Linked DNA regions of Homo sapiens. The protein of the gene in region 1 interacts with the protein of each later gene in a pairwise test. Each region holds a gene or a part of one and is shown in the gene's direction. Other genes may lie near its edges.

Evidence for each region.
Region 2: the proteins of SH3GLB1 (region 1) and TPD52L2 interact in binary tests that used the Homo sapiens proteins (3 or more experiments, as listed by UniProt).
Region 3: the proteins of SH3GLB1 (region 1) and ABHD12B interact in binary tests that used the Homo sapiens proteins (3 or more experiments, as listed by UniProt).
Region 4: the proteins of SH3GLB1 (region 1) and SPART interact in binary tests that used the Homo sapiens proteins (3 or more experiments, as listed by UniProt).

Annotation. Positions count from the first base shown.
Region 1 is NC_000001.11:86,707,567-86,714,594, forward strand, and holds part of SH3GLB1 (endophilin-B1), read left to right. Parts: intron 1-7,028. UniProt on the Homo sapiens protein: May be required for normal outer mitochondrial membrane dynamics. Required for coatomer-mediated retrograde transport in certain cells. May recruit other proteins to membranes with high curvature. May promote membrane fusion.
Region 2 is NC_000020.11:63,868,246-63,875,273, forward strand, and holds part of TPD52L2 (tumor protein D54), read left to right. Parts: intron 1-1,050; coding exon 1,051-1,196; intron 1,197-5,422; coding exon 5,423-5,571; intron 5,572-7,028.
Region 3 is NC_000014.9:50,896,035-50,903,062, forward strand, and holds part of ABHD12B (protein ABHD12B), read left to right. Parts: exon of another isoform or gene 1-806; intron 807-5,794; coding exon 5,795-5,877; intron 5,878-7,028.
Region 4 is NC_000013.11:36,336,394-36,343,421, reverse strand, and holds part of SPART (spartin), read left to right. Parts: intron 1-7,028. UniProt on the Homo sapiens protein: Lipophagy receptor that plays an important role in lipid droplet (LD) turnover in motor neurons.

The DNA of each region.
Region 1 (7,028 bases):
CTGTAATTGTTAGAGATACATACTGAAATGTTTATGGATAAACTTATATCATATCTGAGATTTGGTTTTTACAGGGTATTTTTTTTTTTTTTTTTTTTTGAGATGGAGTTTGGCTCTTGTTGCCCAGGCTGGAGTGCAATGGCGCGATCTCAGCTCATTGCAACCTTCGCCTCCCCGATTCAAGCCAATCTCCTGCCTCCGTCTTTCAAGTAACTGGAATTACAGGCAGGCTCCACCACGCCCAGCTAATTTTGCATTTTTAGTAGAGATGGGGTTTCACCATGTTGGTCAGGCTGGTCTTGAACTCCTGACCTCAGGATCCACCTGCTTCGGCCTCCCAAAGTGCTGGGATTACAGGTGTGAGCCACCACACCAGTTGAGATTAGCGTTTGAATATTTCAAAAGAAAAAAACAGAAGTCGCTGAAACAACAGCAACGGAATGTTGATAGTTGTGGAAGGTTGGTTATGGGTTCATGAGGTTTCATTATACTGTTATACTTTTGTATGTTTGACATTTTCCATAATACTTTTTTAAAGATAAAATTTGTAAGAAAAAAAGGATGCTTCTAAAATAGAACATGTGAAATTTGGAATGCTGTGTGGTAGTTTTCAACAAAACACTGCTTTCTCATCTCAGTATTTATTTCATCACTGAGTTCCTACATTAAATTGCATTGACATCAGTATAATGCCAAAGTACCAAGTTTCATGCTAAGAATAGCTTAAGAGCTATGCCAATATCTCTTTATAAGCAGTAAGAACAGTAGAGAGAGAAACATTCACGTTTATAAATAATAATTTTCATTCAAATCAAATTGTACCGTAAGGAATATGCCATTCTTTGGTTGGCCAACGCCATACATTGTTTTCCATTTTACTTAAAAATTTCTAAGTTAAAAATTAAACATGTTTCTTGTTTTAAAAAAAGGTCAGCTCAAACTAGTAAAGCACATAGATGCGTCCCATCACCACTCCACTTCCCTCCTTTTAAAATTTGTTTATAAGCCTTGGTACTTTAAAAAGAATGTTAGACTAGAATGTATAAATGAGTAGGAATGTTTATTCTTAACTAGCCCATTTGGGTGCTTGTTTTTAAGTACCTCAAGATGGTAAAATACAAAAGTATCAGGTAATTCACCCTTGCTTAATTGTTATTTTACTAGAGTTTTAAATGCCATTTATTCTTAGAATCCATCTTTTTAGTCCAAACTTCTTAGTTGAGCATTAAATACTCCCTTACAATCTGGTCCTTTCTCTCACTTATATAAACACTGTATTCCAAATTATTTTTTAATTTCCAAAATATCTTCTACTTATTTTAGGCTTTTGTTCATATGGTTAGACTCCTCTTAAGTGTCCTGTCTGCCTATTCTTTCCTTTCCTTAAGATACAACTTTATTCATCTCCAAAATGGAGAGAGTAAAAAAAATTTTAAAATAAAAGTAAAATAAACTTTTTTTAAAGATATAGCTTCAAATCCATCTCAGCTGATAAGGCTTCTTAGACCACAAGAGCTTGCTGTGAAATCGTGAATCATTTTCAATTCCAAATGATGAGGTGGCACTTTTCTTCTAATGAACTGTTATGTTAGATCTCTTGGAACTCTAAAGTTCTGTTACTCTGACTTTCTTTAATAAGTTTGTATGTGCTAAGGCATCAACTCTGTTTCTTATTCCCCTCTTACAACATCTAACATGGTTCATCTTTTATATCATTTTAGCCAGGCAAATTACCATCCATATGTGAAGTTTAATCTTTGAAGGGCAACAATAAGCATGTTAAATAACAGTATCTTTATTAGTATTTTCTAACATTGTTTGCGGACCTTGAAGTTAACTAATACCAGTATAAATTGAGTACCTCCTAGGTGCTTGGCGTTGAAAGATACAAAGCTGAATGAGACCCTGTTCCTGCCCTCAGAGACTTCATAATAATAGTCTCAAACTTGTCATAAATCTTATTTGTACTAAATAGCCATTTTGTGAATAACTTTATTTGATAAATCTTTCAAGTGGATAAAGGAACAAGAGATGTGTTTTTAACTCAGAATTCTTATTGAAGCAAAACCTTGCTCACCATCATTAAAATAAGAGCAAAGACTTTCTAAAAAGAATTTTTCAAATCAAATTACTTAGGGAGGGAGTTCATTTTAATTTTCTAACATTTCCTCTAAACTGATTATTAAAGTCATACTATGAAATTCGTGAACACCAGCTATTTTCTAAGGAATATAGTTCTTAAAATATAGTTTTGAGCTTGGCCTTGATCTCCCATTTATTTCAGCAAGTGTCATGGTGTGTCTAAGGATGTAAAGATGAATATGATGTTGCCGTTCAATAGCTCCTGTCAGACCCTCCCTGGAGTTTCAGTTTGGCCAAACAACTCTCTCAAGCACTTCTGAAATCCTATTTCTTTTACAGAATTCACACCGTGACAACTTCACCATGTTTCTTAAATTCTAATAAATAAAATATGTCACATTCGAAATCCATACATTTTCTTGTTATATAAAAACTCTACATGTTTAGTGTTACTTAAAACTGTTTTCACATCCTTTGGTGCTATTTGCATTACTTTAGTAAAATAGATAGAAGATAGTTTGTTAACCTGATGTTAAAATTTACACTTATGTACTACATGAGTAAGGTAATTAGAAAATCTATAAAACTCTTTTAAATTCATCATATTTCTTGAAAGAATTTTTTTTTTTTTTTTGAGACGGAGTCTCGCCCTGTTGCCCAGGCTGGAGTGCAGTGGCACGATCTTGGCTCACCGCAATCTCCGTTTCCCAGGTTCAAGCTATCCTCCTTCCTCAGCCCCTCTAGTAGCTGGGATTACAGACACGCGCCACCGTGCCCGGCTAAATTTTGTATTTTTAGTAGAGACGGGGTTTCACCATGTTGGCCAGGCTAGTCTCGAACTCCTGATCTCAGGTGATCCACCCGCCTCAGCCTCCCAAAGTGCTGGGATTACAGGCATGAGCCACCGTGCCTGGCCTTTCTTGAAAGTATTTTTAAGGTAATGACAGAGCTACAAATTAATCCTAAACTCTTAACCACACCCAACTGATGTACTCCTAGTTGCTTTGCTACTATATTTAAAATGATCAAACACCTAAGTCAATTACTTTAATATTCTTTGGAGACCAGCTTACTGAAAGAACCTCAACACAGTTAATATATTTGAAGCAAAACTCCAGCACAGTGAAGTAACAGTAATAACAGCTGAAATTCCTAAATGGGCCAAAGAGGAAAGTAAAGTAATGCAGCATGCACTAAACCAAGCGATACATATTTAAATAGTTATGAATGAGTTTAGAACAGTGGTTCTCAGTCTTGGCTGCACTTAAAATGCTTGGGGAATCTTTATAAATGCCAATATATGAGCTACACCCCAGTCCAATTAAATTAGAATCTTAGGGGTTGGATCAGACCAGACATCAGTGTTTTCTAAAGCTCCCTCAAGTAATTCTAAAGAACAGCCAAAATTGGGAACCAATGGAGAAAGATGCACCTTACAGTTTACTAATACATTATTCAGAATCTGTGTTACATATTTTCCAAGAAATTTAAATTACTTTTAGAGTATTACCCTTTAGTAATACTGGTGATTAGAGTTTGCATTAAATAGATGTCTTTGATCACACACCCATTTTATTTGTAGTCTTTTTTTTTTCTAAAAGTAGAGTTTGGAATCCAGGCTCCTTATTTAATAATGTGGGTTATATGCCTATCCTGTAGTAAAAGAAGGATTACAGTGCCTGGTATAATGTAGCCGACTCAAAGACAATTCTTTCCGCAAAGCAATATTTAGAGAAAATATATAAAAGGGGATTAAACTTTTATTCTTATGCCACTTTGCCATATTACAAATGAAATATGAAAAAATTAGGTATCAAATTATATTTTAGAAAACATTGAGTTTAATGACTTACTAAGAAGATGCTTATTTACAGTTTGCCTTTTATTTTAGGTTGTTTACACAAAAGTTCTTAATTATTAAACTATACTGCCATCTATTCATTAAAAGATATGCTTAAAATCAACTAGTTTCTCATTAATACCTATTATCAAGAGATTACAAAATCAGTAATGATTTTTGACTTGAAGATGTTGAAAACTAAAATTTTTATGGGTTAATTTAAAATTTTTTGGTAACTAGGAAAGGGATCTTTTTTTAAAAGAAAGAATTAATAGGTCTTTTGCCCTTCTGAAAAGGTGCCATTATTATAATTTTGTTTGAGTCAAGGCAGTATTCTCCTAGTAGATCATAAAATCCTTGAGGGCAAGAAGTACATCAGATGCTGATCATCTTGCTGTAGAAGCCATAAATATTTTTGATTAGTAATTTAAATATTAATTTAGTTGAGATGACTCCTAGTGTCTGTAGTAGACGCATTATTTACAGTGCTTTAGAGAAAATGTATTAAATATTGTATTTGTTATCTTAATAAAGTGTACTTCTGATTAATTATGGAAAAATCCTTTTGCTTCCACCAATGATAAAATTTGGGAAATATTATGTCTTTTACAATTATATATTTAAGTAATAAGATTTAAATTTATAATTTCAATTTTAAAATATGATAGCATTAGCAATGTCCTTATTGTGTGTCTTCCTCCCTTTTATTCATTCATGATAGGATTTAGTTTACTAATTTTGGTGAATAATTATTGAATATCTTGTAGAAAGCAGAAGTGATCTGGGGGAGAAAGCTGTCCAGAGTGCTGCGAACAGACATAGGAGAAAGGAAGCACAGAATATGATTGGATAATAGTAATAGAAATAGAAAATACTAATTTTGGAAATCAGCAAGTATTTACTGGAAGGGTAGTATAGCATGATAAGACTATGACTCAAACAGATGTGAGATTGAATCCCAACAATGACACCTTGGACAAAGTGTTTAATCACCCTGAGTCTCAATTTATTAATCTCTACAATTATTCTTACTTTATTTTAAGATTCTTTCGAGTATTTGTTGTAGAATGCACAGCTTAGTTAATGGAATTTTTGAACATACACTAAGCCTTGACACAGAAGTATGAGAAAGATGTAAATGGATGTGCTGAAATGTGAAACATAGAAACATTGTCATGTGACCCTACAGTACTGCTATTTTCTAAACAGGTTTTCTGTAATTAGACTGTCTCACTCATGTGTAAGGGTTCCATGTATCTTCTGAACTAAAATAGTTAAAAAAAAAAAACCTACTAATTGTGTGTGTTTGTAGAATCTTTATCAGTTAACATATTTTCTTTCTTCCTCAGACTCATACAAATAAATCACTTGGTGCAAATACCCATCTTTGCTCTGTTATACTTTCATACTCTTTTCAAAAAGAATATATATTTATTGAGATACCTGGGAGGTAGTATCATGAGAGTCACAAAGAAAATGTTAAATAATTAAGCAAACAGGCCTTTTTACCTGAAGATTGAAGTGTTTTATTTTCCAAATAATTAACTTTCTAATTGCTGATTTTCCTGAAATACTGTCGGGAGAAAACTTGCCCTGAACCCCAGTTTGTATCAGATAAATTCAGTGACTATTTTATTTTATATTTATTTATTTTATTATTAACTTATTAATTAGAGATAGGGTCTTGCTGTGTCACCCAGAATGGAGTGCAGTGGAGTGCAGCTGGGACTACAGGTGTGCACCACCATACCTGGCTAATTTTTTGGATTTTTTTGTAGAGACGTGGTTTCGCCATGTTGCCTAGGCTGGTCTAGAACTCCTGAGCTCAAGTGATCTGCCTGCCTCAGCCTCCCAAAGTGCTGACATTACAGGCGGGGGCCCCTGCTCCTGGCCATAAGTACTGATTTTGAATTATTGATCTGTTGATTTTTCTATTAATCTATTCTTGGTTATTAACTATAAGTTAAGGATTTCCACAGAGAAATTAATATTTAATATGTGTGAGGGTGATGCTAATGAGCTTAAAGAAATTGTGCAACTGGAAGATAAATCATCAGGACTATACACTCTTTCCTTAGATCTTAACATAGTTCATATCATTCAGTCACAGGTCGTTTGTTACCTACTCAGAGATGCTGTTTCTCTAACTACCCGCATCTCACACTCCTCAAACTCCTGCTCCCCTTTCTAGGCCCAAGTTGCCCATCCCTCCCCCACTGAAGCCTTCCCTGATTCTCCTGCTCTCCCTCTTCCTCTCCCTGAAGAATGAATTCTTTCTCTGTACTTGGATTTGTATGTCACTCAGAAACAAACCAACCATGTTGGTCCGCTTTACCATCTTCATATCTTTATATCCTTATTATCAGATTATTTATTTATCTATTGTCTGTCTTTGCCATTAAAATGTAAGCTTCCTAAGAACAGAAACCTTATATGTTTTGTTGGCTGCTGAAACCCATGTGTTTAGAAGAGTGCCTAGCACATATGTAGGTGCTTAATAAGTATTTGTTGAAGGAATAAACAAAATGAACAAACAAATGGATAAACTTGCTTATTAAAGGGAAATTTATGCATGCAGTTTCAATTTTTAAGGGGCTAAGTGAATTTTTTTTAGATCACTCTTTATAGGTGATGTTCACCTGAGTGAAAGGTATTCCCTTTCTTCCCTTCCTATTGGTCACTTTATCTGGGAGTTATTTTATCTAGCCATTGGTGGTAGACTTTGAACATGTAAAAGTCTAGTAGGAGGTCTGTTGCTTAGAATCTTCAGGGATCTGTAAAGACTACGGGGTTCTCTGTTAAGAATGAGGTTGCATAGTTTATCCAGCTGGCCTTGGGATCAGGGTTTGCTTTTGCTCAGTGCCCAGTCCTCCAGCTACACTGCAAGTTTATGGGCTTAGGCAATAGCTTTGTAACTGCTATTTTTGGTTCTACCCACTAGGTCAGGGGCTGGCTATAGACCATTCTCAAAAAGACCCAAGGCTTTACAAAAGCTATTTAAGCTGTTATTTCTAGCCCCTAAACAGGAGCCTCAGTGGAGATTGTAACCAGAAGTCTAAGAATAGAATTCTAGAGGATCCTTCAGCTTAAGGTGTTGATAATAACC
Region 2 (7,028 bases), on another chromosome or scaffold:
ACAGGGAAAGTGTTACAATAGTCATGTGCTTGGATTTGGAGAGAATCGAAATAGACTGTTTTTCTTTATGTGAAATCTTGTAGACTTTTAGGGTAGTCAGGAAGATGCATTTGACATGAAGAAAAAACAGTGGCTGCAGGAATTTGAATGTGATCTGGGTGTAGTTGAGGTGTGTGGTGGCAGCACACCGCTCTGCACCTCTCTGCCTGCTGGCGGCCTTCTGGCAGTGGGATGAGAATCGGGAGGTAAGTAAAGGGAATTTTGTTTTGCTGCCTCCCTGAAGGAGCTGAATGAGCAGCATGTGCTCCTAGTACGTAATTTTAGCATGTGCTCTGTCAGATGTGTTGAGAGGAAAGTGATGCTTATTGTGTATATTAACCATATTAGGTTCCTTTTTTTAAAAAAAGTGGAAATTTGTCAGGGTATGGTGGCTCACACCTGTAATCCCAACACTTTGGGAGGCCAAGGCGGGCGGATCACCCGAGGTCGGGAATTGGAGACCAGCCTGGCCGACATGACGAAACCCCGTCTCTACTGAAAATACAAAAATAGCCAGCGTGGTGGCGTGCGCCTGTAATCCCAGCTACTCGAAGGCTGAGACAGGAGAATCACTTGAACCCGGGAGACGGAGGTTGCAGTGAGCTGAGATCGCACCATTGCACTCCAGCTTGGGAGGCAGAGTGAGACTCCATCAAAAAAAAAAGGTGGAAGGTCTGTTAGATTGAGCTGCTTTCTCTGTAGCAAGGGTTTCCTGCCTCTGACGATAGTATTCTCACTGGGAAGCCAGAATTCGGGTTTGCCTGCCTTGGGCCGGCATTTGTCGTGCCCTGAAGCAGCACAAGTGGCATTGGCTTTTCAGCTCAGGTGGTCTGAGGTGTGGCTGCCCTCGTCTACTGCCCATGCTGTCCTCACAGACCTTTCAGAGAAGAGGTGTTAGTCTCCAGGGTCTCACCCACTCCCACCTGTGCTTTTGTCCTGCTAGAGACCTCTACCGTATTTACTTGGAACTAACTTATTTGACACTTTGTGGCCTCATTTTGTCTCTGGCAGATATCAACCTGAATTCTCCTAACAAAGGTCTGCTGTCTGACTCCATGACGGATGTTCCTGTCGACACAGGTGTGGCTGCCCGGACTCCTGCTGTTGAGGGTCTGACAGAGGCTGAGGAGGAGGAGCTCAGGGCTGAGCTTACCAAGGTGCTGTGGCTTGGCTGTCTGTCCTGGGGTGAATTGGAGTTAAGGCCCTCTTGGATTAGTGAGAGGCCAGGGTACTGGCCACGCTCGGGAGGAATTGCCCTGGGTGGTCACCTACCCTGCTCTGTGTTCCGACTGATAACGGGGTTCTCTTTGTATGTGCCCAGCTCCATGCACTGGACTCAGAGCCACCTGGCAGTGGAGACAGGGCATGACTCCCTTCCCATACCTCTGTGCCTGGCCCTTCCTAAGTGCTCCCTGAGGAGTGTTCACACATGAACCGCCTCTGAGCAGCCATCTGCTGGGAGTGTCTCTGTTGGAATTAACACTTGATAATCATTTTTAAGACCCCATGAATCTTTCTTGTCCTGGATCTTAAGTTTTCTTTTAAACATATTTATTTTGGCTGGATGCAGTGGCTCATGCCTGTAATTCCAGCGCCTTAGGAGGACAGGGTGGTAAGGTGGGAAGATCACTTGAGCCCAGGAGTTTGAGAGCAGCCTGGGCAACACAGTGAGACCTTGTCTCTACCCCCAAAAATTAGCCAGGTGTGGTGGCATGTGCCTGTAGTCCCAGCTACTCAGGAGGCTGAGGTGAGAGGATTGCTTGAGGCCAGGAGGTCAAGGCTTCAGTGAGCTGTGATTGCATCCTGCACAGCAGCCTGGGTGACAGGGCGAGACCCTGTCTCAAAAACAAAACAAAAACTTCTTTTCTAAAAAGTATTTATGTGATCTTCTTTAAGTGAGAGTCCCTTAAGAGTAATGTAGGAATTAAGAACAAAAGCCTCCAACCATAATTTTTAGTCAAACCAACTGCCAAGAGTTTTCTTTTCACCCTGTGATGTGGTTTAATTCCAGAATCTGGGTCCAGGCCTAGGTCTGAGTAAGGTTGGTTGTGCCGCTGAGTCTGAGGACCAGGTTTCAGATCCTGAGGACATCACACAGCTATTTCTAGCCTAGAAGATTAAAGGAGAGTAGCAGGAAGTCCAAGGACACTTTGCTTTCCATTTAACTTCAGAATATGTGAGTTTAGAAACTAAATCCACAAGGTTTTTTTCAGAGTTGAATTACAATAAGGTGAAGTTTTTTTTTTTTTTTTTTTTTTTTTGAGTCGGAGTCTCTGCCGCCCAGGCTGGAGTGCAGTGGCGCAATCTCGGCTCACTGCAACCTCCAACACCCGGGTTCACGCCATTCTCCTGCCTCAGCCTCCTGAGTAGCTGGGACTACAGGCGCCCACCACCACGCCCGGCTAATTTTTTTGTGTTTTTAGTCGAGATGGGGTTTGTTTTTTTTTTTTGGAGACAGAGTCTCGCCCTGTCGCCCAGGCTGGAGTGCAATGGTGTGATCTCGGCTCGCTGCAATCTCCGCCTCCCAGGTTCAAGCGATTCTCCTGCCTCAGCCTCCCGAATATCTGGGATTACAGGCGCGTGCCTCCCTGCCCATCTAATTTTCGTATTTTTAGTAGAGACAGAGTTTCACCATGTTGGCCAGGCTGATCTCAAACTCCTGATCTTGTGATCCACCCACCTTGGCCTCCCAGAGTGCTGGGATTACAGGTGTGAGCCACTGTGCCCGGCCCCTACAAGGTGAAGTTCTGTATTGCTTTTTTTTGTTGTTTTTCTTGAGACAGAGTCTTGCTCTGTCGCCCAGGCTAGAGTGCAGTGGCGTGATCTCAGCTCACTGGAGCCTCTGCCTCCCTGGTTCAAGTGATTTTCATGCCTCAGCCTCCCAAGTAGGTGGGATTACAGACGCCTGCCACCACACCTGGCTAATTTTTGTATTTTTAGTAGAGACAGAGTTTCACCATGTTGGCCAGGCTGGTCCCGAACTCCGAGTCTCAAGAGCTCCACCTGGCTCAGCCTCCCGAAGTGCTAGGATTACAAATGCGAGCCGCTGTACCCAGCCAAGAAAGAGAATTTTTTTTTTTTTAAGGACGGAGTCTCACTCTGTCGCCCAGGCTGGAGTGCAGTGGCGTGATCTGGGCTCACTGCAGCCTCCACCTCCTGAGTTGAAGTGATTCTCTTGCCTCAGCCTCCCGAGTAGCTGGGATTACAGGCGCACAGCACCATGCCTGGCTAATTTTTGTATTTTTAGTAGAGACGGAGTTTCACCACGTTGGCCAGGTTGGTCTCGAACTCCAGACCTCAGGTAATCTGCCTGCCTCAGCCTCCCATAGTGCTGGGATTACACGCAAGAAAGAGTTTTTTTTTTTTTTTGAGACTTTTTGCTCTTGTTGCCCAGGCTGGAGTGGAATGGTGCGATCTTGGCTCACTGCAGCCTCTGCCTCCCAGGTTCAAGTGATTCTCCTGTCTCAGCCTCCCGAGTACCTGGGGTTACAGGTGCATGCCACCACGCCTGGCTAATTTTTGTATTTTTGGTAGAGACGGCCTTTCATCATATTGGTCAGGCTGGTCTCGGACTCCTGACCTCAGGTGATCTGCCCGCCTCGGCCTCCCAAAGTGCTGGGATTACAGGCATGAGCTATCGTACCCGGCCAAGAAAGAGAATTTTTAAAGAGAAGCTAGTCATATATGAGCTGAAGATACTGAGAACTCATTCTAAAGTGGTAAAGCTTTGAATGATGCCCCTTTCAGAGGTCATGTTCTTTTTTTTTTTTTTTTTTTTTAAAGACCTGAGAAAGTTCAAGTCTTCATGATCAGGAATCTTTCTGTTGCTCAGTTCTAACTACGTTAAGCACAAAAGATAATTTACCTTTTGGTTCGTGTAACTGACTCTTGCCAAGGTTTGGAACTGACCTCAGGAACACAAGTGTTTTCTTAAGGGTGTTTTTTTCTGTCACCTGTGTCACTGTCCATCTGCCTCCTCCTCTCTGCATATGGAATTCTATGAGTGCAGACGGTGCCCGGCTGCCAACAGTTCCAGCTTCTATTGTCCAAGCCCAGACTGAGAGCCCTGAGGGAAAAGGATCCTCACTGTTTTTTGTTTGTTTGTTTGTTTTTGAAACAGTCTCGGTCTGTCACCTAGGCTGGAGTGCAGTGGCATGATCTCGGCTCACTGCAACCTCTGTCTCCTGGGTTCAAACAGTTTTCCTGCCTCAGCCTCCCGAGTAGCTGGGGTTACAGGCGTGCACCACCATACCTGGCTAATTTTTGTATTTTTAGTAGAGACGGGGTTTTGTCATGTTGGCCAGGCTGGTCTCAAACTCCTGACCTCAGATAATCTGCCTGCCTTGGCCTCACAAAGTGCTGGGATTACAGGCGTGAGCCACTGTGCCCGGCCAGGGTCTTCACCATTTTTTTGTTGTTGTTGTTTTGTTTTGTTTGAGATGGAGTCTCGCTCTGTCACCCAGGCTGGAGTGCAGTGGCACAATCTTGGCTCACCCGCAAGCTCTGCCTCCTGGATTCACACCATTCTCCTGCCTCAGCCTCCCGAGTAGCTGGGACTACAGGTGCCCGCCACCGTGCCTGGCTAATTTTTTGTATTTTTTAGTAGAGACAGGGTTTCGCTGTGTTAACTGTGTTAGCCAGGATGGTCTCGATCTCCTGACCTCGTGATCCGCCCGCCTTGGCCTCCCAGAGTGCTGGGATTACAGGCATGCGCCACTGCGCCCGGCCGGTCTTCACCTTTTTAATACCATGCCCAGTCCTAGTAAAGAGCTCGGACAAACCTGGCATGGTCATCCTGGGCCATTCCTCATGACCACAAATGGACATGGTGATTGGTAGCTCTCCCAGAACCATTTAGTTGTGGGGCATGGGATAGTTCCCTGGAGTCAAGTTCCTAGTACCAGATAAAAACAAATGTCTGCTGGCTGGGCGCGGTGGCTCACGCCTGTAATCCCAGCACTTTGGGAGGCTGAGGTGGGAGGATCACCTGAGGTTGGGAGTTTGAGACGAGCCTGACCAACATGGTGAAACCCCATCTCTACTAAAAATACAAAATTAGCCGGGCAGGGTGGCACACGCCTGTAATCCCAGCTACTTGGGAGGCTGAGGCAGGAGAATCACTTGAATCTGAAAGGCAGAGGTTGCGGTGAGCCGAGGTCGTGCCATTGCACTCCAGCCTGGGCGACGAGCGAAACTCCATCTCAAAAAAAAAAAAAAACCAAAACCCAAAAATCAGATGTCTGCTGTAGATGCTGTTATTCCTAGGACGAGTTAATGCTTTGGTAAGCGGAAAGTTCTTGTGTAACTCATGGCACTGTGCATGAGGATGTTAGTCACTTCCTGCAGTAGTGATGGCTCATCATGTCAACTGCATGCTTTGCAGGTGGAAGAGGAAATTGTCACTCTGCGCCAGGTCCTGGCAGCCAAGGAGAGGCACTGTGGAGAGCTCAAGAGGAGGCTGGGCCTCTCCACCCTGGGGGAGCTGAAACAGAACCTGTCCAGGAGCTGGCATGACGTGCAGGTCTCTAGCGCGTAGGTACCTGCCCCAGGCGCACCCCTGGGGGCTGAAGAGAACGGGCACCACACGTGCCCCGGCATGTGGGGGGGCGTCGTCATGCCCAGGGACGAGTTGCAGCCGTGGAGTTGAGTGGCCTGTTTGGAAGGATCCAGAGAGAGGCTCTGAGCCCTTGGCCCAGCGACTGTGCCTTGTTTGTTCAAAAAGCTTGGTGTCTACATGTGTTTTATTTATTTTTAAGTTTTTGTGTACTTTATTATTATTTTTTTTGAGACAGAGTCTCACTCTGTCGCCCAGGCTGGAGTGTAGTGGCGTGATCTTAGCTCGCTGCAACCTCTGCCCCCCGGGTTCAAGCGATTCTCCTGCCTCAGCCTCCCAAGTAGCTGGGATTACAGGCGCCTCCCACCGCGCCCGGCTGATTTTTTTTTTTGTGTGTGTGTGTGTGTGTGTGTGTGTGTTTTTAGTAGAGATGGGGTTTCACCATGTTGGCCAGGCTGGTCTTGAACTCCTGACCTTGTGATCCACCCACCTCAGCCTCCCAAAGTGCTGGCCACCACGCTGGCCTTTTTTTTTTTTTTATTATTATTCTTTTTTGAGATGGTTTCGCTCTGTCACCCAGGCTGGAGTGCAGTGGCGCAATCATGATTCACTGCAACCTCAACCTCCTGGGTTCAAGCAATCCTCCCAACTCAACCCCCCTCGTAGCTGGGATGACAGGCGTGCGCCACCATGCCTGGCTAATTTTTTCACGTTTTATAGAGACAGGGTCTTGCTTTGCTACCTAGGCTGGTCTCAAATTTCTGGGCTCAAGCAATCCTCTTGTTTTGGCCTCCTAAAATGCTTGGGATTACACGTGTGAGCCACCACATCCGGCTTATATACGTGTTCTAAAAAGGCAGACACACTGGCTAGTTGTCCTGGTGGAAAATGATAGGAAGACTGTTTCAGGGTCCAGACTTGAGAGAGCACTGATCAGGTCCTTGGCAAGAGCGGTTTTTCTGTGGTCCTTGTTGTGGGTGTGGCATGGTCACAGCCTCTGACCCAGATATGGCCATATGGGCCGGGCATGGTGGCTCATGCCTACAATCCCAGCACTTTGGGAGGCTGAGGCGGGTGTATCACTTGAGGTTAGGAGTTCAAGACTAGCCTGACCAACATGGAGAAACCCTGTCTCTACTAAAAAATAAAAAAATTTAGCTGGGCGTGGTGGTGCGCACCTGTGATCTCGGCTACTAGGGAGGCTGAGGCAGGAGAATCTCTTTAACCCGGGAGGCGGAGGTTGCAGTGAGCCAAAATTATGCCACTGCCCTCCAGCCTGGGTGACAGAGCAAGACTCTGTCTCAAAAAAAAAAAATATATATATATATATATTTATATATAGGACCATATGGTCCCACAACCCTAGGGACTCTGACCCTCCCCGATGACGACGTGGTCCTACATGACGACGTGGTCCTATAACCCTGGGACACCT
Region 3 (7,028 bases), on another chromosome or scaffold:
GTCCTCCTCTTGTATCCCCCGACCTTAACCCACAAGTATAAGATACCTCTACTCCCTCCTTGGTGACCGATCATGCACCCCTTACCATCTCATTAAAACCTAATCACCCTTACCCCACTCAACGCCAATATCCCGTCCTGCAGCATGCTTTAAAAAGATTAAAGCCTGTTATCACTCACCTGCTACAGCATGGCCTTTTAAAGCCTATAAACTCTCCTTACAATTCCCCCGTTTTACCTGTCAGCCCTGAGAAACATCGCCCATTCTCCCTCCATACCACCCCCCAAAAATTTTCACCGCTCCAACACTTCAACACTATTTTGTTTTATTTTTCTTATTAATATAAGAAGGCAGGAATGTCAGGCCTCTGAGCCCAAGCCAAGCCATCGCATCCCCTGTGACTTGCACATATACGCCCAGATGGCCTGAAGTAACTGAAGAATCACAAAAGAAGTGAAAAGGCCCTGCCCTGCCTTAACTGATGACATTCCACCATTGTGATTTGTTCCTGCCCCACCTTAACTGAGTGATTAACCCTGTGAATTTCCTTCTCCTGGCTCAGAAGCTGCCCCACCTTAACTGAGTGATTAACCCTGCGAATTTCCTTCTCCTGGCTCAGAAGCTCCCCCACTGAGCACCTTGTGACCCCCGCCCCTGCCCACCAGAGAGCAACCCCCTTTGACTGTAATTTTCCATTACCTTCCCAAATCCTATAAAACGGCCCCACCCCTATCTCCCTTGGCTGACTCTCTTTGCGGACTCAGCCCGCCTGCACCCAGGTGAAATAAACAGCCATGTTGCTCACACAAAGCCTGTTTGGTGGTCTCTTCACACAGACGCGCATGAAAAAATTTTGTCTATTGTTACTGGTTTTTTGGACTGCTTGCTTTTTCAGTTACTCAAAGAGGATTATTAAAGTACCTCATCATGATTGTGGAATGGTTTATTTCTATTTTAGTACTGTTAATTTTTGTTTTAGTTTTTTTGAGGTTATGTTGTTAGGTACATAAGCCTAATAATATTATGATTTAGTTTAGTTTTTTTTTTTTTTTTTTGAGATGGAGTTTCACTCTTGTCACCCAGACTGGAGTGCAGTGGCGTGATCTCAGCTCATGGCAACCTCTGCCTCCTGAGTTCAAGCTATTCTCCTGCCCCACCCTCCCAAGTAGCTGGGATTACAGGCATGTGCCAACACACCTGGTTAATTTTTTGCATTTTTAGTAGAGACAGGGTTTTACCATGTTGATCAGGCTAGTCTTAAACTCTTGACCTCAGGTGATCCACCTGCCTCAGCCTCCCAAACTGCTGGGATTACAGGCATGAGCCACCATTCCCAGCCTATGATTTAGTTTTCATATCTTCCAGGTGGATTTATCATTTTCATCATAAAATGTCCACCTTTTTTGTGATCAATATTGCTTCTTGACTTAAAGTCAACTTTGTCCAATATTTGTATATCTTTGTTTTGATTAGTGTTTGCATGGTATAGGTTTTTCTATCACTTGATCTCAACAGGACATAAATAGGAGGTATAAAGTTAACAGGGATTTCTACGGGTCTCTTTGGAATCAGTTTTGTTACTCAGAATTGAAAGGCAGCATGATGTTGTGGAAAAGAGTATGGGCTGTGGAGCCACTCAGACTTGGGTTCAAATCTGTCCTTGGCCACATACCCTTTGTGACCTTGGTAAATTGTTTCTCCCTAAGTTTTCCCATTTTTTTACCAAGGGGTTGGCGAAGACCACTGCACAGGGTTGTTGTGAAGACTGAATTAAGTAAGATAATGTATGTAAAGTACCCAGCTGCTAGTAAGCACTAGACAAATACTTGTTCCTTTCCGTCCCTCTTTCTGTTACAAATTAGGCTAAAGTGTTATGTATGGCAGGAAAAGGCAGGGAGAATTCAAGGCAGGGAGAATTACTGAAGAGAGAGGCTTTGCTCACAGGTGTGGCCAATGAAGACTTCAGAGCCTATTGGACCTAAGCTTCTTTCTTGAAGGTGAGGGAAAGCAGTTAGGAAACAGAGCGAGGAACAGGTGAATGTTAACTCAGACCCCTGGCAGGAATGGGGCTGTTCTACGTTATAAACTGCCTGAGAGTTAATAGAGGACTTCCACACAAGTCTTTCGCACTCGTTATTCTTTTAAATCCTCACAGCAACTCTCTGAGTTTGTCATCATTGCTTCCACTTAGAGATGAGAGAAATGGAGACCTATAGGTTTGCCTAATTGTCACATATCTTATAAGAAGAAGAAATGAGACTCAAACCTACATCTTCTAATTGCAGGCAGATAGACTGGAGGTGAGCAGGGTTTGGAATGAAAGATTGTGGCCAGATGTGCATGGGCTTGCTGTCTAGTTGTTGTTTTCAGTAGATAGTGTGGCATGCCCAAAGCTTCGTAACAGCAGATTTAATATAACTGGTATTTTAAGGATGTTTATCTGGTGGTGTTACAGAAGAGAGAGGAAGGTAGGAAGACCAATTAGGAGAGCCCATTGCCATGGTCTAGGCTGGAGGGGAAGGTATGACCTGTGAGTCTCAAAGGGCACTCCTGGCTGGAAGGGAATGAGGAATAATGAGAGTAGATTGACCGGGGCTTGCTTTCTTCCTACTCTTTCAGAATTTGAGATGAATTGCTGAAGGACTTCTCTTACTGAATTCTCCTCAGGGGAGTCTTAATTCCAGGGGTGAGAGTACCAGAAGACAAAAGAGAAAACAAAACAAGAAATCTTGCCCTTAGCATGGAAGAGGAGGGAGAAGAAAGAGAAGGAAAGGCTGTGTCAGGAAGTCCAGAGCACACCTGAATGCAGATCAGTTGCTATGAGACCAGGCCAAAAAGTTCAGGCCAGACAAATCCCACAGAACCAAGGAGATTCCAGCTGGGCACGGTGGCTGGCGCCTGTAATCCCAGCACTTTGGGAGGCCGAGACGGGTGGATCACCTGAGGTCAGGAGTTCAAGACCAGCCTGGCCAACATGGCGAGACCCTGTCTCTACTAAAAATACAAAAATTAGCTGGGCATGGTGGCAGGTGCCTGTAATCCCAGCTACTCGGGAGGTTGAGGCAGGAAAATCACTTGAACCCGGGAGGCGGAGGTGCGGTGAACCGAGATCGTGCCACTGCACTCCAGCCTGGCCAACAAGAATGACACTCCGTCTCAAAAAAACAAAACAAAATAAAACCAAAAACCAAGGAGATTCCTGGGGGAATAGCAGGCCTAAGCCAGAACTATGAAGCAGCAATTTGTATTTAGTGGCACTGGCTTACCTATTTTATACCCATTTCCTTACCACATTCCCTAAAATGACATCAATTACTTTCTAAAATCAGAAAAATTGTATTTAAGTTTATTCTATTTAGAAAGTCTCTATTCTATTATTACAGTTCATAGTAGGAGACTATTAACAAATGACATTATAGCCATGGGGCAAGTTTTAATTTCTTTTTCTTTTTAAAAAATTGTGAAGCAGAAGTTTGTATTTATTGGGTCCAACCTCCCTATTCTGTGCCTATTTCCTTCTCTTGGCCATGTCCCATTTACTACCCCCTCTACCCCTCCTCTCTCAGGCACAACACGAAAATGTATAATACTTTGCTTATTTTTCCTCTTTGCAAATTTATTGCAAAGATTTGTAATCCCAGCACTTTGGGAGGCTGAGGCAGGCGGATCATTTGAGGTCAGAGTTCGAGACCAGCCTAGCCAACATGGCGAAACACCATCTCTACTAAAAATACAAAATTACCTGGGCGTGGTGATGCATGCCTGTAGTCCCAGCTACTTGGGTGGCTGAGGCAGGAGAATTGCTTGAACCCAGGAGGCAGACGTTGCAGTGAGCCAAGATTGCACCACTGCACTCCAGCCTAGGCAACAGAGTGAGACTCTGTCTAAAAAAAAAAAAAAGAAAAAAAAAATTTAAATCTGGGCCAGGCACTGTGGCTCATGCCTGTAATCCCAGCCCTTTGGGTGGTCAAGGCCAGAAGATGGCTTTGAGCCCAGGAGTTCAAGACCAGTCTAGGAAACATGGTGAAACCCCTTCTGTACAAAAAAATTAGTTGGGTGTGGTGGCACACCCCTGTAGTCCCAGCTACTATGGAGGCTGAGGAGGGAGGACTGCTTGAGCCCAGGAGTTTGAGCGCTGCAGTGAGCCATGAGCATGCCACTGCACCCACTCCCAGTCTAGGCAACAGACTGAGACCCTGTCTCAAAATAAACAAACAAATAAATAAAATAAGTAATATCTGAAATTCAATCATACTAAATGAAAATGACAGATAATAACAAAGTGTACGCCAGGGATATTTGCACAATAGACTCATTTTGTCTTTAGCAAATATTTATGAAGTGTCTATTATGTACCAGGAACTTTTCTAGTTTTTGAGGACACCACAGGGAATAAGAAAGTTGTGGTCCATTTACCTACGAAGTTCATATTGTTGATGGAGAAACAGATAGAAGATAAATACATTAAAAAAGAAATCCAATAGTGAGAAGTTCTGTGAAAGCACCAAAATAATGTGATGGAGAATGACTGGGTGGTGGGGGCAAGGTTTGGTAGCTGGTTATGGAAAACAGCTCCGAAGAAATAGCATCTGAGCTGAGACCTGCCTGAGATGAAGCCAGCTGATGGGAAAATATAGAGATCTCAGGCTGGGGTAAAAGTAAAGGCAAGCGCCTTGAGGTGGGATCAGGCCTGACATGTTCCAGAAGCAGAAGGCAGCAGAGCCAGGAGGTGGACAGGAAGGTGCTTAGTGATAGGAGATGAGGCTGGAGAGGGAGGCAGGAAGCCGCCGGATTCTTCAGGGCCTTGGAGGCCAAGGTGACATGTTCAGGTTTAATCCAATTGCCTTTGGAGGGTGTTAAGCGAAAGAGTGCTACGATCTGATTTGCACGTTAAAATAATCATTCTGGTTTTCCTGTGGGAACTGGATTATGGAAGGGTGAAGGCAGAATCGGGGAGCCACTTGGAATTGCAGCTTAGTATAAGCAAGAGATGAAGGGTGGCTTAGGCTAAGTGATAGTGGGGATGGGGAGAAATGAATGGGTTTAGGATATAGTTTTGGAGGCAGGATTCAAAGTTTGTGAGAAAGGTGCAATATTGCTCAGGATTTTTATCCTTTACTCCTTATTTCCAGATAAAACGGATATTTCTAGGGCATATAAACTAACTTACATGTTGACTATGTGAGTCAAAACATTGTAAAAGTGGATTTAGCTAGCATTCTATTTCTTGGATTTTGCTATTAAACAACAAATTTAGTATGTCTAGAGTGAGCATTGTTATATCTGGAATCCTGTGGTCATTGTTAAAAACTAAAATGTCTTTTAAGGCATTGGCATATTAAATCATATTCAAAAGTTTGTAATGTTCAAATTCTCTAAAATCAATTTTCTATGTATTGTATATTTTCATCAGAATTTTTGACTAATCAGAATATTCTGTCCACCAACTAAACCAGTTATGTTCACAATAGAAGCAATTTTAGGTTTTGCATACCACTGCTTCTACATGGAGAAGTAAGAGTTAGTTGTGCCATTTTTAGGAAGTGAAAACAAAATGTTAACAATGATGGTCTATGATGGCAGAATTATGTGTGCTTTGTTTCTTCTACATTCCTTTCTTTTTTTCCAAATTCCCGACGTGCATTACTTTTTAAATCGTAGAAGTTTTTTGTGAAGTTTACCTTACTTAGAGAAGCACTACTCTCTGTGTTACCCTGGTTCATAGTGAAAGACTATATAACAGATGGCATAGCTATGGGGCAAATATTAATTTTTTTTTCTTTTTTAAAAATAGATTTACCGGAACATTCCAGGATTTTTACGTACACTTATGGATGCCCTGAGAAAAGACAAAATAATCTTTCCTAATGATGAAAAGTAAGTTAATGATGAAAAGACATGCATTATTACTGTATCTAAAGGATTCTAGGGGCAACTATCATGTGACTTACTGGATGGTGACATGAGACATCCTGAATATCATTCTTATTCTTAGAATATTGTTCTGCGCTTCTTAGATGGGCACTAAGATTTGGGTAAAGTATCTATGAATTTTTAGTATTTGCTATTTTCCTCATGTCTAATTCAATGACTTCACCAATTCAGTACTCTCTCTGAATTCATAAACGAAGTTGTATATCTATAGCCTATCAAGACCTTTTAAAGGGCTTGGTAGTGTTAGCGTATGCCTATAATCCTAGCACTTTGGGAGGCTGAAGTGAGAGGATAGCTTGAGCCCAGAAGTTTGAAACCAGCCCGGGCAACACAGGGAGACACCATCTCTACCAAAAAATTTTAAAATTAGCCAGGCGTGGGGGCACGTGCCTGTCATCCCAACTACACGTGAGGCTGAAGTAGGAGGATCACTTGAGCCTGGGAGGTTGAGGTTGCAGTCAACTGTGATTGTGCCACTGCACTCCAGCCTGTGTGACAGAGTGACATCCTGTAAAACAAACAAACAAACAAAAAACCAGCCTAACATTTCTTGAGGCATCTCTGACTTCTAGGCCCTTTTCCCCATATAATGAAAACTCGTCTACCATCCACCTTACTAATGTGACAGCAAATCCAATGACTAGAATTTATCAAGTTAGCCTGTTACAGTTAGAGAATTTAAGAATGCTTCCAAATAGACAGTTGTCAATATATTTTTCTATGTCAACACACTTGAGAAAATCCAACATTCTCAGGGGTGTCAGTGAGTCACTGTGGCAGAGATGGATGGGTATCAGAATTTTGGGGGGACAGGGAAGCATTGCTTGAGAAAGTAACTAGAGTGGGAGACAAGACATTCTTCATGCCATAGCCCTTTTGAATTAGCAAACTAGGGGGTTGACCAGGAAGCTAATCAGACCTGTTAACTGCACGTCCATCCTCTACATTTATGGAGAAAAGTAAACAAATTGCTACAAAGAGGTCTCTGATTCTGTCATAGTTTTTGTTTTATTGAGGTTTTGAGTTTTGTTTTCTTTTTTAGTCTTTTAATAAAATATTTCAGATGTTACAAAATAGGTGGAGTAAAGAAGAAT
Region 4 (7,028 bases), on another chromosome or scaffold:
GTAGTTTTATATCCATCACCATCAATTTTTAAAATACATTATATTTTACACACTTCCTTTTTTAAAAAATTTTACTTTTTTATCACCCCCACCCCACAGAATATTATCTTAAGGTAATGCATTTTTATGCTTGAAAGCTTTTTATTAATCTCTGTGATACATGGCTTTAATAACAATAGTTATATAAATTGAAGCTAAGTTTAAAAATTTCCTATAACTAATTCTGTAAGTTGTAATTTTTCTTTTGGGTTGAGTTATTATAAATAGTTGATTAGAATAGCTTAAAAACTTGATGGATTTTAATGAATAATAATTATTAAGAGTAGAAGTTTACTGGAAATCTGTGTCCTAATGGAATGGATAGTGGGAGTTGTGCCTAAATTAAAGGAGGGTCTTTGAGCCCTTCGACTTATTGTTTGTTGGTAGGGAGGCTTTTCCATCCTGGGGCAGTGTACCATAGTAAGAATAGGAGTGGGTGAGAAGTATGCCTTTATTTTGTAAAGTGGAAGATTGTGAAAGGATCTTGGGGAATAAAAATCAGCATGATAACTGGACAATGGGCATATTCTCAGGCAGATCAGTTTAGTGAGAAGTACTCATGGGAGTAAAGGATCTGGAAGCCTTTTTCTTAAAATTACACATGTCGTTGGTGTATGTCCCATGGAAGACTTCATTTGTCCTGGGGGGCACACATCCCCCAGTTTGAAGACCATTTAGAGTGGTAATTCTCAGTGGGGGACGATTTTGCTGCCCAAAGTACATTTGGCAATGTCTGGAGACGTTTTTGGTTGTCACAACCGGGATGAGGGGTGGTGCTGCTATGGGCATCCAGTGGACAGAGATCAGGGATGCTGCTAACAAAGCATTATCCAACCCAAAATGTCAACCATGCCAAGACTGAGAAACCCTGATTTAGAGGATTTGTTTTGGAATCAGACTATTTAATTCTGTAAACTAGTGCAGGGTCAGTAAACTTTTTTTGTTAAGTGCCAGATAGTAAATATTTTAGGCTTTTGGGGCCATGTATGATCTCTGTTGCACATTCTTCTTTGTTTTTATAACCTTTAAAAAATGTAAAAGTAATTCTTAATTCCAGGGTCTTTCAGAAAACAGGTGATCTAAGGCAATTAATGCTTGCAAACTTCAATTTTCTTCTCTGCAAAGTAGTACTAATAGTAATATTGCATCAAGAATTGTTTGTAAGGATTGAGATAAACACCTAGCATACTGTCCAGCATATGTTAAGTACTCTAAATGATGCGTGGGGATAGTGGTGTCCTATCGTATGTAGCACAAAAGTGGGTGCCAAGTCACAGTGTTGTTCAAGACCCTGTTCAAGTCATTTGGACAAATTTAATGATGCTGGTGAAGCTCCCAATCAACTCACAGATGCCTATTTAACCTCTGCTGTCTTTCTGCTGCCTTAGTCTGGGCCTCCTTGTATCCTGAGGAAGATAAAATACAAAATGCCTGTCTTGTGGTTTCTTTGGAAAGATGTGGCAATCTTATGACACAACAGGATAGTATTCCAGGAGAAGAGATTGTTAATATTGATAGGGGTTGTGGGGTAGAGCAAATACGTGGGTCTGTATATGGTCAATTGTATATGGTATTTTCTAAATTGGGTACTGAATATATTCTGTTGACTACCATGAAGTTGTTGCATAATAAGGCTGACTAGTGGCACTTCAGGTTAGAAAGTATAGTTATATTATTAATCGGAAGCTAGACCAATTTTAATGAATGCTTTCTGTGATGCTTCTGTGCTTTCATAGTGTAGATTGCTGCTAAAATAGTTTCATATCAGTGAAATTCTTCTATCGTAAGTTTTCATGAGATCACAGGAAAAGAATTGCCACATCTAATGACAGTAGCCACTAGGTACATGTGGATATTGAGCACTTGCAATGGGGTTAGTTGGAATTGAACTATCTTTTCAGTGTAAAACACATACTGAGTTTTGAAGACTTCATACCAAAAAAAAGAAAGCTAAAATATTTAACTGAAAGTTTTTATATTAACTGCATATTGAAATAATATTTTTGATATATTTGGATAAATAAGATACTATCATTGAAATTAACTTCACCTGTTTTTTACCTTTTTAATGTTATTAGAAAAGTATAAATTACATATGTGGCTTGCATTACAGTTCTGTTTGACATAGTTGCTCTAAAGCTTCCATTTACTTTTTTAATAGTAATTAAATTTTCTATCATACACATAGATTTAAGAAAAATCTTACCCCTTCCTCCCAAAGTCAGCTTGTATCATTTTTCTTACCCAATTCTTTTGGTCTTTTTTGTACTCTAAACAGTGCGAATATATTGGCACTTTTTCAGTTTTAGGCACTGTCCATTAACTTCTCAGTGAGAAAGATGAAGTTTTATCTCTTTCATCCTTTGTCGCATGCACATAAACTTTTTATCCATCCATCTTCCCATCTTTCAATATGGTTGTACCATAATTTTGTTTATATTGAGATTCATTGTGTATATTATGACACCAATCAAAACTGAAACATTTAGTACATTATGATTACTTTTTATTTCTTGCTCAACATCATTTTCCCTAGAGTTAATCCTTAGTTTTTAATTATTACTAATGGAACCCTGAATACTCTCACAGTTGTGTAGATCTTTTTTCAGAGCTTACAATCACATTAGGTATTCTATCAGTTTTACTTTCTTAAAAAATTCTTTTCTGTTGTCTCCTACTCCACCCTGGAGTGTTTGCCTAATTGTTATCTTGGAAACTCATCATCAGTCTTGGGATTCCTTTCATCAAACATGGTACCCAGCAAACAGAAGATGTAATAACTGAGCAATCACTTGGCTGGGTTTAGAAGCTATTTTTACTCAGAATTATGAATTAAATGTATAATTTCCTTCTTCTATTGTTGCCTTTAAGAAGTTCCTTAGCACTCTTACTTCTCTCTCTTTTTTTGTGTGTAAGTATTTTAAAGATGATCCTTTTGAGCTTAGTGTTCTAAAATGTCATGGTATGTTTCTTGGTGTGAAATCTTTTTTTCTTATTTATTTATTTATTTTTATTTTTTTGAAACAGAGTCTTGCTCTGTCGCCCAGGCTGGAGTGCAGTGGTGTGATCTCGGCTCACTGCAAGGTCCGCCTCCCGGGTTCAAGCAATTCTCCTGTCTCAGCCTCCTGAGTAGCTGGGACTACAGGCGCCTGCCACCACGCCTGGCTAATATTTTTGTATTTTTAGTAGAGACAGGGTTTCACCTTGTTAGCCAGGGTGGTCTCGATCTCCTGACCTTGTGATCTGCCCACCTCAGCCTCCCCTTTTTTTCTTATTTTTTGCCCATTGGTTTTTTTATTTACTTTTATTTGTTAGAGATGGGGTCTTGCTCTTTCAACCCAGGCTGGAGTACAGTGGTGTGATCATAGCTCACTGCAGCCTTGAATTCCTGCACTCAAGTGATTCTCCTGCCTCACTTCCTGAGTAGCTGGAACTACAGGCACGCGCCAGCATGTCTGGCTAATTTTTTGATGTTTTCTTTGTAGAGCTGGTCTCACTATGTTGCCCAGGCTGATCTCAAACTCCTGGACTCAAGCGATCCTCCTGTCTCAGTCTCCTAAAGTGCTGGGATTACAGGTGTCAGCCACTGTGCCCAACCTGTTGGTCTTTTTAAATTAGGAAATTCATGTTTTCCAATTCTAGGAAATTCTATGAATTATTTCTTTAATTCTTTCATCCCTTATTTTTTCTCTGTTCTCTATTTCTAGGAGGTTTTTTGTTTGTTGGTTGGTTTTTTTTTTTTTTTTTTTTTTTTTGATGGAGTCGTGCTCTGTGAACAGGCTGGAGTGCAGTGGCATGATCTCGGCTCAGTGCAACCTCTGCCTTCCGGGTTCAAGCAATTCTCCTGTCTCAGCTTCCTGAGTAGCTGGGGTACAGGTGCATGCCATGATGCCCTGGAAATTTTTTTGTATTTTTAGACGGGGTTTCACCATATTGGTCAGGCTGGTCTCGAGCTCCTGACCTCAGGTGATCTGCCCGCCTCAGCCTCACATATTTCTAGAAGTTTTATTATTCAAATGATATGCCTTATAGACTGGGTCCTAATTTTCTTATTTATTATTGCCTATTTTTCATCTCTGTCTTTTTGCTCTGCTTTCTGGGCATTTTCTATAATTGTATGACCTCATCCTTCTTGAGTTTTTCCTTCCTGCGTTTTAAATATTTAATTTCCCGGAGTTCCTTTTGTCACTCGAATATCCTTCTTTCAGTATGCACGCATCCCACTTTTTATTTTATGGATGCGATATTTTCTTTTTCTTTATGTTGATATAAATGATAGGGTTTTTTTTTTTACGTTTCCTGCACATTGTCCATTTCAACCAAATTACATTGCTCTTCTTTTAATCCTTTATACTGGATGTTTGCCTCATGTTTTGTGATCCTGGGCTGTGTGTGTGTCTGTGTGTGAGTGTGTGCGTGTGAGTGAAGCACTAGAAAGCTGATCTGAGATTCTATGGGTGGAACCTATCAACTATGGCTTCTGAACGGTGAATTGCTTGGACAGTTTTCCTTAGGGAACTCTCACTGTCACTATTCTTTGTGTCTTTCTTCTTGGTGATGATCAGATTCCTCAAGAAGATAACTTCCAATCTCCTTTCTTGAGGGGTACCTGGCAGCCAAAACTCTAATTACCAAGTTGTGGGGAAGAAGGCTGTGGGTCTCAATAATCAATGTGTAACATTTCACTTAATCCCCCTGCTTTTGGTTTTTACCCTTAATCATGCCTGATAGTTTCTTATCCTCACTTTATTTTACACTCTTCTAGATCAAAGCACTCAGTCTTTCAGGGCTGTAGAGAAACAGCGTCCTGATTGCTTGGTGTAGGAAAGATCTGAGGGTGCTAATTTGTAAATAGGCTTTCAACCAGTCCTCTTTTTTCAGCTCTTTGTCTACTTCCTTTCCATAGGAAGATTGAATTCCATCAATTCTTATGCCTTTGGAGGTTCTTGATGTGACGTAAGTGCAGCTGCGTCTCTGATTTTCCCACTGACAGTTTAAAGCATCTGTTTTCTCAAGTGTGTTTTGGGAGTTTTCACTTGTCTGCCTCCTTTTTTGACACCAAGTACTGTTGACTTTTCATCTTCCCTATTTGTCCTTGTGAGTTATGGCTTTATTATTTATCTGTTTTATTGAGGAATCACATAAAATGCATATAGTACCCTGATCTTAAATGTATAGTTTAATGATTTTTATGTATATATACAGTAGTCCCCCCTAACCCCTTATCCAAGGGAGATAAGTTGCAAGACCCCTAGTGGATGCCTGAAACCATGGATAGTGTGGCACCCAATTGCTTTCAATTGGAACATGTTTCTGTTCATATCTCAGCCTTTTCCATCTTAACTAAACACTTGTCACATGCTTTGACCATAAGTTTTGCAGTTTGAGGGACAACAGCAAAACTGGCACTAATTTCTTTTTCCTTCTTCACAATTTCAGGAATAGAAAATATGTTATTAATGGTAGATCTTAGCAACCTCAGCATATGATTTTTTTTCTTGTTAAGTTGAAAACTTTAACCTTTTCACTTGAAGGAAGCACTTCACAGCTTTTCAGTGTATCAAAATTGCCAGCATCACTACTGTTGCACTTTGGGGCCATTATTAAGTAAAAAGAATTAGTTGAATCCAACCACCACAATATCGGAACAGTTGATCTGATAACCAAGATGGCTACTGTATTAGTCCGTTTTCACACTGCTGTAAAGAACTGCCCAAGACTGGGTACTTTATAAAGAAAAGAGGTTTAATTGACTCAGTTCTGCGTGGCTGGGGAGGCCTCAGGAAACTTACAGTCATGGCGGAAGATGAAGGGGAAGCAAAGACCTTCTTCACATGATGGCAGGAAAGAGAGAGCTAGCAAAAGCTGGAAAAACTGCCTTATAAAACCATCAGATGTTGTGAGAACTCACTATCAGGAGAACAGCATGGGGCAAACTGCCCCCATGATCCAGTCATCTCCCACGGGGTCCCTCTCTTGACACCTGGGGATTATGGGTATTACAGTTCAAGGTGAGATCTGGGTGGGGACATCGCCAAACCATATCAGCTACTAAGTGATCATGGGAGGGGAGCATAGACAGCATGGATGCCCTGGACAAAAGGATGATTCATGCCCCAGGGGGCACAGAGAGAGACAAGAGGAGATTTAATCATGATACTGAGAATGTGCAATTTAAAATTTATGAATTATTTATCTCTGTAATTTTCCATTTAATATTAATATTTTCAGATCATAGTTGACTGCAGGTAACTGAAACCACAGAAAATGAAACTATACATAAGTGGGGACCACTGTACACCCTTGTAGTCATCACTCAGATCAACAAGAGAACATTTCCAAAGGCCATGAGATTCCCTCCTGTACCTGTGAAGTCTGTAGCCTCTACCTATAAGCACTATTTTGATTTATGTCATATCATAGACCAGTTTTTCCCATTTAATTCATTCATGTAGAATCATAGTATGTGGTCTCAATATGAAGTCTTTTGTATTTGGCTTTTCCTCAAAGAATTGGTGAGATTCATTGATGTTGCAGGCAATCAGGTTTAAAATTTTTTTTCTGTGTATTATTGCATTGTATGAATGAGTGAGCATTTGGGTTGTTTTAAGGATTTGCTTTTTGTGAATATAGTTGCTGTGAATATTGCCATACATGTTTTTGGCATGCACATGCATCCATTTCTCTTGGTTATATACCTGCAAGTGGAATTGTTGGGTCATTGAGTGGGTGTTTAGCTTTAGTAGAAACTGCCGGTTTTCCAAAATGTTGTATCATTTTTCAGCTTTCACCAGCAAGGTAGAAGAGTTCCACTTGTCTTCACTTAGCACTAATCAGTCTTTTAAATTTTAGCCATCTGTTAAGTGCCTAGTTGGTATCACTCGATTTTAGTTTCACTTTTCTGAGGGAATAGTATGTTGAACACCTTTTCAGATGCTTTTTAAAGATTTTCTTCTGTGAAGTGCCTATTCATGTATTTTTCTCACTAA